Homo sapiens: one gene and its partners. The protein of the gene in region 3 interacts with the protein of the main gene of each other region in a pairwise test. Each region holds a gene or a part of one and is shown on either strand. Other genes may lie near its edges. The genes, in order: RAPSN, GUK1 and UBE2Z.

Evidence for each region.
Region 1: the proteins of UBE2Z (region 3) and RAPSN interact in a two-hybrid assay, tested with the Homo sapiens proteins (one large-scale study listed by BioGRID and IntAct).
Region 2: the proteins of UBE2Z (region 3) and GUK1 interact in a two-hybrid assay, tested with the Homo sapiens proteins (one large-scale study listed by IntAct).

Annotation. Positions count from the first base shown.
Region 1 is NC_000011.10:47,438,967-47,442,685, reverse strand, and holds part of RAPSN (43 kDa receptor-associated protein of the synapse), read left to right. Parts: coding exon 1-30; intron 31-764; coding exon 765-863; intron 864-952; coding exon 953-1,075; intron 1,076-1,388; coding exon of another isoform or gene 1,389-1,473; coding exon 1,474-1,527; intron 1,528-2,619; exon of another isoform or gene 2,620-2,680; intron 2,681-3,618; coding exon of another isoform or gene 3,619-3,719. UniProt on the Homo sapiens protein: Postsynaptic protein required for clustering of nicotinic acetylcholine receptors (nAChRs) at the neuromuscular junction. It may link the receptor to the underlying postsynaptic cytoskeleton, possibly by direct association with actin or spectrin.
Region 2 is NC_000001.11:228,138,681-228,142,499, forward strand, and holds the start of GUK1 (guanylate kinase), read left to right. Parts: upstream 1-1,598; 5' UTR 1,599-1,622; coding exon 1,623-1,683; exon of another isoform or gene 1,684-2,953; coding exon of another isoform or gene 2,954-3,149; intron 3,150-3,819. UniProt on the Homo sapiens protein: Catalyzes the phosphorylation of GMP to GDP. Essential enzyme for recycling GMP and indirectly, cyclic GMP (cGMP). Involved in the cGMP metabolism in photoreceptors. It may also have a role in the survival and growth progression of some tumors.
Region 3 is NC_000017.11:48,914,907-48,918,406, forward strand, and holds part of UBE2Z (ubiquitin-conjugating enzyme E2 Z), read left to right. Parts: intron 1-1,169; coding exon 1,170-1,281; intron 1,282-3,500. UniProt on the Homo sapiens protein: Catalyzes the covalent attachment of ubiquitin to other proteins. Specific substrate for UBA6, not charged with ubiquitin by UBE1. May be involved in apoptosis regulation.

The DNA of each region.
Region 1 (3,719 bases), on a different chromosome or scaffold from region 3:
CGCCTGGGCAGTGCCATGGAGTGTTGTGAGGTGGGGCAGCGGGGAAGGGGGCAGGTCGGGGATGAGGTGGTGTGGGCCAGGGGCTGGGGCCTGGGACAGCAGGGCTTCCTTCTTCCAAATCAGCCCATGGAAGCCCCCTAGGGCTTGCCTCTGGCCCAGCCTCTCTAAAGGCGTGCACCACCATGCACAGCTAATTTTATTTTTGTAGAGACGGGGTCTCACTAAACCACCCTCCTGTGCTGAAGCGATCCTCGTGTCTTGGCCTCCCAAAGTGCTGGGATTCCAGGCATGAGCCACTTGTGCCTGGCCCAGTTTTTATTTTTTAAATGAGATGAGTTCTCTACAGCTGAACCCCTGAAGGAAACATTTGTCCCCCAGCCTCATCCCAAACCCACTCCCTTCCAATCCATCTGCAGGGGAGGGGGCTTCCTTCTGCCCCAACACCCTATATGGGGTACTTTGAAGGGTAGAGACGGAAGAGGGCCAGTTTCTGGAGTCCCACTGACCTGGGTTCACATCCCAGCTTTGTCACTTACTGGGTGACCCCAATCAAGTCACTTCTCTTTGAGCCTCACTTTCCACCCACCTTGCTGGGTGCTGTGACTTCAGTGGTTCAGTGTGTGAGCCCTCAGCACCATGATAGATTCACTAGGCTCTGAGGATGTTGCTTCCCTGGGCTGTCCCTTCAGAGGGGTCTGTTGAGGGGAGGGCACTCCAGTGGTGGTGGCAGAGGAGTAGGCCTGAGCCACTGGCCTCCCTCGCAGGAGTCTATGAAGATCGCGCTGCAGCACGGGGACCGGCCACTGCAGGCGCTCTGCCTGCTCTGCTTCGCTGACATCCACCGGAGCCGTGGGGACCTGGAGGTGAGGTCACCGGGATGCAGGGGCTGGGGGCAGGGGGCAGGGGCACAGGCCTGATACAGCCTGATTCCATCCCCCACCTGGCTCTGCAGACAGCCTTCCCCAGGTACGACTCCGCCATGAGCATCATGACCGAGATCGGAAACCGCCTGGGGCAGGTGCAGGCGCTGCTGGGTGTGGCCAAGTGCTGGGTGGCCAGGAAGGCGCTGGACAAGGTGAGGTCGGGCCTTTCCCACAGCCTCCAGCCCTCCCAGCACTCCCCACTTGGGGCCAGTAGGTTAGCCGGCTCTTTCAGCCACTTTGTCTGACGTCAGCCTCACCCTGATCCTACGAGGCCAGGACATTCCTGGTCATTTTCCAGGCTCAGAGAAGGCCCATCACTTGCCCTAGGACCCACAGCTAGTAAAGGGCTGGAACCCTGGGTAAACTGAGGCAGGAGGTCACTTGCCCACACAGCCCCTATGACTGTGCCCTAGTCTCTTCCTGCTGCCTTCACACACAAGGCAGCTGCCATGTCACCCTCCCTAGGCCTGCCCCCCTACCCTGTGCTTCCCTGTGAGCAAGGCCTGTCAGACAGCTCTGCCCGCAGCCCTGGCCTATGCTCACCTTCCAGGCTCTGGATGCCATCGAGAGAGCCCAGGATCTGGCCGAGGAGGTGGGGAACAAGGTCAGACTTGATTCTGTGTCCTGGATCTGGGGTCAAGGGCCCAAGTGGGGAACTTGGGTCTGGGGAAGGGCCTTCCTGAGCCTACTCACGTCATGAGCCCTTCCTGATGCTGGGAGCTGCCTGCAGCCAACCCCATACTCTGGCTCTTTCTCTGCCACACACACAGCACTTCTGAGGGCAGGGCAGAAGTTTCATAGCTTGGAGGATAGCAGAATTCCTCAGAAGCTTCCTGATGTTGATTAAAACCCCTAACAGTGGGCTGGACATGGTGGCTCACATCTATAATCCTAGAATTTTGGGAGGCCGAGGTAGGAGGATCACTTGAGCCCAGAAGTTCGAGAGCAGCCTGGGCTACATAATGAGACCCATGCTCTAAAAAAGAAAAGAAAAGAAAAGAAAAAAACATTTTTGAGATTGAGTTTTGCTCTTGTCTCCCAGGCTGGAGTGCAATAGCGCGATCCCAGCTTACTGCAACCTCTGCCTCCCAGGTTGAAGTGATTCTCCTGCTTCAGCCTCCTGAGTAGCTGGGATTATAGGCACCCGCCACCACACTGGGCTAATTTTTGTATTTTTTATAGAGATGGGGATTCACTGCGTTGGCCAGGCTTGTCTGAAACTCCTGACCTCAGGTGATCCACCTGCCTCGGCCTCCCAAAGTGCTGGGATTACAGGCATGAGCCACCAGGCCCGGCCTCTACAAAAAATGTTTTAAAATTAGCCAGCTGTTGTGGCACACACCTGAGGTCCCAACTACTTGGGAGGCTGAGGTGGGAGGATAGCTTGAGCCCAGGAGGTCAAGGCTGCAGTGAGCTGTGATTGCTCCACTGCACTCCAGCCTGGGTAACAGAGTGAGACCTTATCTCAAAACAAACAAAAACTAACAGTGGCCTCCACTCCCTGAGCACTGAGCACACACAGGGTCCTTATGGGTACTGGGTCCAGTCCTCACTCTCTCCCTGTGAGGTGAGTACAGCAAGCCCCATTTTACAGATGAGGAAAAGTGAGGCTCAAAGAGGCGTCCAAGGTCCCACACCTACTAACTTGTCTGTTTTAACTACAAAGCCCATGTTCCAAATTTAATAATGGTATCTAGTGCTTGCTTTGGCAGCCCATATTCTGAAATTGGAACAATACAGAGAAGATTAGCATGGCCTAAAAACCAAAACCAAGGCCGGGTGCGGTGGCTCACACCTGCATTTTGGGAGGCCGAGGTGGGCAGATCACCTGAGATCAGCCTGACCAACATGGTGAAACTCTGTCTCTACTAAAAATACAAAAATTAGCCAGGTGTGGTAGTGCACGCCTGTAATCCCAGCTGCTTGGGAGGCTGAGGCAGGAGAATCACTTGAACCCGGGAGGTGGAGGTTGCCATGAACCAAGATTGTGCCACTGTACTCCAGCCTGGGTGACAGAGCAAGACTCCATCTAAAAAAAAAAAAAAAAAAATCGTCATAATCTTATTAAAACCTTAAAATCTTGAAAACAGGTTCACCACTTCTCAAAGCCTTCCAGATGTGCATTTCTACGAGATCCTGTGCACAGTCCAACCAAAATGCCAAAATTTGGTTGGATTATAGCCACTCTGGTTTACCTGGGTATCAGGCTGATCAGAAATGCTGATGAGCTATTGTGTGTATATTTAATTAATAAAAACAGGAAAGCAGATTAATTATTATTTTTTTTTGAGACGGAGTTTCACTATTAGAGCCCAGGCTGGAGTGCAGTGGTGCGATTTCGGCTTACTGCAACCTCCGCCTCCTGGGTTCAAGCGATTCTCCTGCCTCAGTCTCCTGAGTAGCAGGGATTACAGGCACTCACCACCACCCCCGGCTAATTTTTGTATTTTTAGTAGAGATGGGGTTTCGCCATGTTGGCCAGGCTGGTCTCGAACTCCTGGCCTCAGGTGATCCACCTGCCTCGGCCTCCCCAAGTGCTGGGATTACAGGCATGAGCCACGGCGCCCTGCCGCAAATTATTATGGAGTCTGTGCACCAGGTTTGGTCATAAAATCTGTCAAAAACATGGGGTCTCCAGGCAGTTCTGGGGGGTGAAGTCTTCTGATCTCACCCACCGCCTCATTCTGCATGAAAGGAAGCAAGGTCCCAGAGAGGGCAGGACATTTTTCCAAGGTCCATCAGCAAGACAGGGAAGTGGCTGAGACCGGAGCCTACCTGCACTGACTTTGTTCTCAT
Region 2 (3,819 bases), on a different chromosome or scaffold from region 3:
TGTTGCCCAGGCTGGTCTCCAACTCCGGGGCAAGTGATCCATCCGCCTTGGCCTCCAAAAGTGCTGGGACTGCAGGCATGAGCCATGGTGCCCAGCCCCAACACATTTTTTTGAAGTTGTATTTTTTAAAGTTTTACTTTTTTTCTTGCTCTCCTGCAGTTCACATTCAATACTTTTTTTTTTTTTTTTTGAGACGGAGTCTCATTCTGTCGTCTAGGCTGGAGTGCCGTGGCTTGATCTCGGCTCACTGCAACCTCCACCTCCCAGGTTCAAGTGATCCTCCTGCCTCAGCCACCCCAGTAGCTGGAATTACAGGGGCCCACGACCACACCCAGCTGATTTTGTATTTTTAGTAGAGACAGAGTTTCACCATTTTGGCCAGGCTAGTCCCAAACTCCTGGCCTCAGGTGATCTGCCTGCCTCGGACTCCCAAAGTGCTGGCATTACAGGTGTGAGCCACTGCACCCAGCCTTCAATAAATCTTTTTTAAAAATTTAAAATAATTTTTAGAAATAGAGTCCCGTGGCCAGGTGCAGTGGCTCACGCCTGTAATCCCAGCACTTTGGGAGGCCAAGGTTGGTGGATTACCTGAGGTTAGGAGTTCAAGACCAGCCTGGCCAACATGGTGAAACCCTGTCTCTACTAAAAATACAAAAATTAGCTGGGCGTGGTGGCGGGCGCCTGTAATCCCAGCTACTCGGGAGGCTGAGGCAGGAGAATCGCTTGAACCTAGGAGGCCCAGGTTGCAGTGAGCAGAGATGGCGTCACTGAACTCCAGCCTGGGTGACAAGAGCGAAACTCCGTCTCAAAAAATAAAAAAAGAAAGAAATAGGGTCTCGCTCTGTCACACAGACTGGAGTGCAGTGACACGAACACCGCTCACTGCAGCCTCGACTGCCCAGGCTCAAGCGACCGTCCCACGTCAGCCTCCCGAGTAGCAAGGACTACAGGCACAAAAAAGTTTTTAAATTTTTTGGTACAGAAGGGGTTTCCCTATGATCCCCAGGCTGGTCTCCAATTCCTGGCCTCAAGCGGTCCTCCCGGCTCGGACTCCCAAAGAGCTGGGATCACAGACGTGAACCACGCGCCCGGCCACATTCCCCAATTAATGGTTTTTGGAGAGTGGCCGGTTTGGAACGGGCTAGCGGAGTCGTTCGTTAGTTAGGTCCCTGCAGTGTAGATGGAGGACGGAAACGGCGCTGTGACATAAGCGGGAGGAGGCGGGCTGAGGCAGCGCTGTGACGTAGCAGATGAAAGCCGGGCCCGCGCTGCACTGAGGTACTTCTCTGAGTGACAAGCGGGACAAGTACGCCGTGGGCGGGGCCGGCGGGTCGTGATGTTAGTTCGCGCTGTGTGGAGGCGGGCCGGCGTGGCGCTGTGACGCAGCGGGAGAAGACGGGCTGGGAGGGCGCTGTGCTGAACGCCCCTGCGGTCGCGACAGGCCAGCGCAGGTGGAGGCGGGGCTAGCGAGGCACTGAGGTAAGTACTTCCCTAAGGGGCGGGGAAGAACGAGTGAGACATGGGCGGGGCAGTCGCCTCATGACGTCAGTCTCGCGCGCGGGCGGAGGTGGGCCGGTGCGGCGCTGTCACGTAGGTTCAGTGGGCGGAAGAGGTGGCCCCGGATGCTGCGGCGCCCGCTGGCCGGGCTGGCTGCGGCCGCCCTGGGCCGGGCCCCACCGGACGGTGAGTACGACAAGCGCGATCGCGAGGGTGACTCGGGTCGAGGCGGCAGCGGTCCCTGCGCTTTGCGGTCGCCCAGTCCACGCCGCCTCCGGATCTCCTCCTAGCCGAGACGCCCTGTGCCGCATTCAACTGTGGGCCCTGAGAACGGGGGAGCTCTGGAGGGCGGACGGGCTGGCAACGCAGCGGAGCCCGGGTCCCGGAGGGCGGGGCGCTCCTCAGGAGCTGGGCAGGCCGGCAGTTATCGCAGTGTCGAGCTGCTCCCCGGGCGTATAGGAGCGCTCGGTGTCTTCCCGACACCTGGGCGCGCCGCCAAAGAGAGCAGCTGGGAGTCCCTACCGCTGGCCCGGCGCGGTGTGCGCTCCGGTTCCCACCTCACCCTGCAAGCCTTGGGGTCCTGGGCGGATGGAGCCGGCTATTCCGGGGCTCCCAGGATTCTGCCTACTCCGCGGCACGGCGCAGAGACGGGGACTTGGGGAAACAGCAGGCCTTCCCGACGCATGGGTGTGGCATTTGGGGTTCGGATTCTCCAAAGCCAGAGTCCGGGTTGGGGTTCTTGAAGCTGCCCTGCTGCCATTCTTGAGCGTCGCCTTAGAAGTATGCCCCAGTAAGGACTGGTGTGGGAAGCAGGTGCCTCAAAGTTGATTTTGACCCTGCGTGTGGTGGGCCTCGGTTTCGTCTTTGCATGAAAGAGGTCGGTCCTGAGGCCCCGGGCTGGGTCCTGCTCTGCTGTCTTTGGGCTCATGGCCCCTTCCTGTCTCAGGCTTGCTCTGCTCTTTACCTGGGGTTGCTGTCGAGGACCCTGTGCAAGACTCGGCCGGTTTTTCTTTCTCCCTGATGGACAGACCCAAACATAGCCGCGCAGCATCGTGAAGGGCTGGGGCCTTCACTCCTCTGTGGCTCTGGAAGAGCCCGATTTCCTCAGGAGGTAAAGGAATGTTCCTGTCCCCCCCGGGGAAAGAAAGTGAAAATGAAAGCGCCCTGGCTGCTCCTGGTGTGGTCCCATTTAAAACGAGGTTGCTGAAGGCCAGGATGCGTGCTACCCGGATGTGTGCCCAGAAACCCTGCAGCCAAGAGCAGCCGCCTGGACCACCAGCCTCCCCTTCATCCACCTGGCCCAGCCCAGAGCCCAGGCCCACGTCTGGTGGTTTGTGTCTTACGAGAGGCCAGGCGGGGGCTGAATTCTCTCGGTTCTCAGAAGGTCAAGCCCTCTGTTAGCATCTCCTCGAACAGTGGGCCGGGGGCAAGGTGGTGACTCTGTTCAGTCCTTAGGATGGCTGGAAGCCAGAAGGAGGAGATTATGCCGCCACAGCAGGGAGTGCCTTTCCAGGAAAGCGGCTGCTGGGGCAGCATGGGAGCCCAGTCCAGGGAGCGTTCTGGCAGAGACCATTCCGGAACATGGATCTGCGCCGGCGGCTCCCAGGAGACCTTCCATCTCGGAGCTCCTGTGGAGACCACGTGCCTGGCAGGTCCTTACAGTTGTGGGTTGTGTGGCTTCTTGCCAGGCAGCTGATTGGAGTTTGCGACTGTGGGTTGGTGAGAGTGGAGAGCACAGAATGTTTGCTGGAATGCTTCCCTCTGCCCACAGGAAGACACCTTTGGCGCATGTGTTCTGGTCAGGGCAAAGGCTCCGTGGTTTCCACCGCAAGATTGCAGGAGCCTTGAGGCCTGGGCCACAGTTTTCTCCCTTGGGTGTGCTCCATGGAAGGTGGCTTTGGTGACCGCCCTGCCACTGGTCTCTCCCCAGGCAGGCAGGCAGCCTGTGCCTCCGCCCTGTCTCCAGCGGTGGTGGTGTGGCTGTGCTTCTGCAAGGCCCGCATCCACTCACTGTCTGCCCTCTGCACTCTCTGGCTGGCCAGGGCCCCCAGTAGTCTGCTCATTGTGCCCTCACGCTTGGGCAGAGCCGAACTCAGGGGACCCAGGAAGAGCGGAGTGTTGGCCCGTCCAGAGTTCTTGGCAATTGGTGTGTCATGTGTGCCTCGTGCCCTGTGCTGGGCGAGAGTGGGCACAGCTGCGCAGACAACGCCCTTGGCGAGGCTGGAGCCTGGACCCCTGCCTGGCAGCAGCTGGGTGAACTGGTGTCTTCTGCCTGCGGGCCCAGCCTCACCTCAATAGCTTACTGCTCCCTCAGGAGGGAGG
Region 3 (3,500 bases):
GCTACTCGGGAGGCTGAGGCACAAGAATTGCTTGAACCTGGGAGGCAGAGGTTGCAGTGAGCCAAGATCACGCCACTGCACTCCAGCCTGGGTGACAGAGGGAGACTTTGTCTCAAAAAAGAAAGAAAAGAAAATTCTTAGGTGTTCCTAGTTGACTGTATTAGCTTTATCAGCCATGTTTTTTTTTTCCTCTTTACCTAGAAAACAATGTTGGGCTGACTTACTGACAAAAGAAATTTAACGAGAGTTGACTCTGTTGTAAAGCTTCAGAGAGCAGTAGGTCTAGAGTTCCTGGGGGAGCAAAGCTGAAAAGATAGAGGCACTTAAGAGCAGTCCCCAGTGAAGTTACTATTAGGCATTACTGACTTGGGCTTTCCTCAAGTACAGCAGGGAAACAGAAGCAGGCAGTCAACTTGAACAAGCCAGTCCTGGCTTAGGTTGTGTTCGGCTTCCAGCTCCGGTGCCATCTCTTCAATTAATTGAGCTAAAAATAAATGTCATTAACATCCAAGCTGTCCCCTCCCCCTAATACTTGGTTGGGTTTATGAAAGAGAGGAGCAATTTTGGTATTTGACGTTTTCCATATATTATTTTCAGACCTTCCACTGTCTGGAAGCACCCCTTATTCTCTTCCTGTTCTTTGGAAGAGTTGTGTAGTCTTAAGAGAATTTGACACTCCTTGGGGGTTTGATACAGAACTGGATCCCCAATAGCCCCACCACATGGCCTCTAACCAGATGGCTTCAGTCACCTGTGTCCCTTTATGCTCAACTTCCCTCTCCCCTCACTAACTCCATCACCACCCATAAACAAGCTCTTTGAGATCCACGGAGATTAACATTTAGACAACTTTGGAGCTAATTGCTTACCTAATTTCTTTTGTTTTGATTGTCGTAACTGTTTCTAGTACAAAGAAAATCCCTTCAAAGTTACATAGCTTGCTATTACCTGTTCTTTTGCCCCCCCCCCTTGATTTGAGGATTAGGCAATTGACTGATTTCTGGTGAAATCAGAACATGAGCATGAGACAGAGGCTGGGAAATTCCAGAGTATTAATAGTGAAAGAGAAACTTATGGTGAGTCACTTATGGTGGTGTTGCCGGGCCCCAGGGTACTTGTTCCCTATTCTTTCTCTGCCTCACCCTCCATTCCTTCTGATGTGTTTACAGTACATGGACTGGACCTGCCTGGAGCCCAGCCCAGAGCATCTCCTCAGTGCTCATCTCTATCCAGTCCCTGATGACTGAGAACCCCTATCACAATGAGCCCGGCTTTGAACAGGTAAGGCCAGATGGGCCTGGCTCTGGGGTGTAGACTATTGTTTTTGTTTGTTTGGTTGGTTGGTTTTTTTGTTTTTTTTTTTTTTTGAGACAGAGTCTTCCTCTGTCACCTAGGCTGTAGTGCAGTGGTGCAATCTCAGCTTACTGCAACCTCCGCCTCCCGGGTTCAAGCCATTCTGTCTCAGCCTCCCAAGTAGCTGGGACTACAGGCGTGTACCACCATGCCTGGCTAATTTTTATATTTTTAGTAGAGATGGGGTTTCACCATATTGGCCAGGCTGGTCTCCAGCTCCTGACCTGGTGATCCGCCTGCCTCGGCCTCCCAGAGTGCTGGGATTACAGGCGTGAGCCACCGCGCCCAGCCAGAATAGTGTTTTAAGAGATCTGCTTGGGAGGTTTTTTTTGTTTTGTTTTGTTTTGTTTTGTTTTGGACCTAGCACAGCCCCATGTACTACATTTGTTGGTATAGGGAAAAAAAGGGAATTGACACGTGTTTTTTAGTAATGAAATTTTTTGCCGACCACTGTGGCTCACACCTGTAATCCCAGCACTTTGGGAGGCTGAGGCAGGCAGGTGGATCACCTGAGGTCAGGAGTTTGAGACCAGCCTGGCCAACCTGGTAAAACCCCATCTCTACTAAAAATTAACTGGTCAGAAGTTTGAGACCAGCCTGGCCAACATGGTGAAAACCTGTCTCTACTAAAAATAAAAGAAATTAGCTGGGTGTGATCACTTGAACCCTGGAGGCAGAGGTTGCAGTGAGCTGAGATCACGCCATTACACTCCAGCCTGGGTAAGGAGCGAAACTCGGTCCCCCCACCCCCAAAAAAATAATAATGGCCAGGCGCGGTGGCTCACACCTGTAATCCCAGCACTTTGGGAGGCCGAGGCGGGCAGATCACAAGGTCAGAAGTTTGAGATCATCCTGGCTAACACAGTGAAACCCAGTCTGTACTAAAAATACAAAAAATTAGCTGGGTGTGGTGGCAGGCGCCTGTAGTCCCAGCTACTCGGAGGCTGAGACAGGAGAATGGCGTGAACCCAGGTGGTGGAGCTTACAGTGAGCCAAGATTGGGCCATTGCATTCCAGCCTGAGCGACAGAGCGAGACACCGTCTTAAAAAAATAATAATAATAATGAATTTTTTTATTTGTGAGAGTTACAATAAGTATGTGACTTGGATTCCTTTATAGCATGGAAGTCAATGGACTCCTTTGGAAATTAATTCTGACCTGCTTTGGGGGTTGTGGCATCCAGTGGGTTCTATGTGCCTATATTCTCAGCATCCCCTAAAGTTGCTCTGTAGGGACTACTACCCAGCCAGCTGTTCTTCTGGGGTTATGAAGGACTGTTACCTGCAGAGTCAAAGGAGCTAGTCATTAGGAGTCCCGGGCAAGACTTTTTGAGTTAACAGTGCCAACGAGAAGGTGGAGAAAACTCACATTTTTCCAAGAGCATGCTCTGTGCTGGACACTACCAAGTTTTTATATATAATTTCTTGTTTAACCTTCATACTATGTGAGGTTAAATATGGTTATTCCCATTTTCAAGTGAAATAATGTTGCCTCAGAGAGGTTAATTAACTTTCACAAAGACACACAGATCAGGATAGGACCCCAGACTTACATTGGAGCCCAACTTCTCCCACTCTTCCGATGTGCCTTCCTGAATTACTCATGAGCACGGGAAAAAGTTCCAGTGATAGTCCCAAAAGAAAATGATTCCGGATAGGTGATTAGAACAGCTTAATTAATTTATTTATTTTTTGAGACAGAGTTTCACTATTGTTACCCAGGCTGGAGTGTAATGGCACAATCTCGGCTCACAGCAACTTCTGCCTCCCAGGTTCAAGTGATTCCTCTGCCTCAGCCTCCCGAGTAGCTGGGATTACGGGCACGCACCACCACACCTGGCTAATTTTTTGTATTTTTAGTAGAGAAGGGGTTTCACCATCTTGGCCAGGCTGGTTTCGAATTTCGGACCTCAGGTGATCCACTCGCCTTGGCCTCTGAAAGTGCTGGGATTACAGGCGTGAGCAACCATGCCTGGCCAACTTAATTTATTTTTAAACTATTACATATGACACCAACTTTGATTCTTCCTCTATAGACCTGAACAAAGGATAATAAAATGCCTTTCAAAAATGAAAAATAAAAATTTTTTTTGAGACAGAGTCTCACTCCATCACTCAGGCTGGAGTGCAGTGGTGTGATCTCGGCT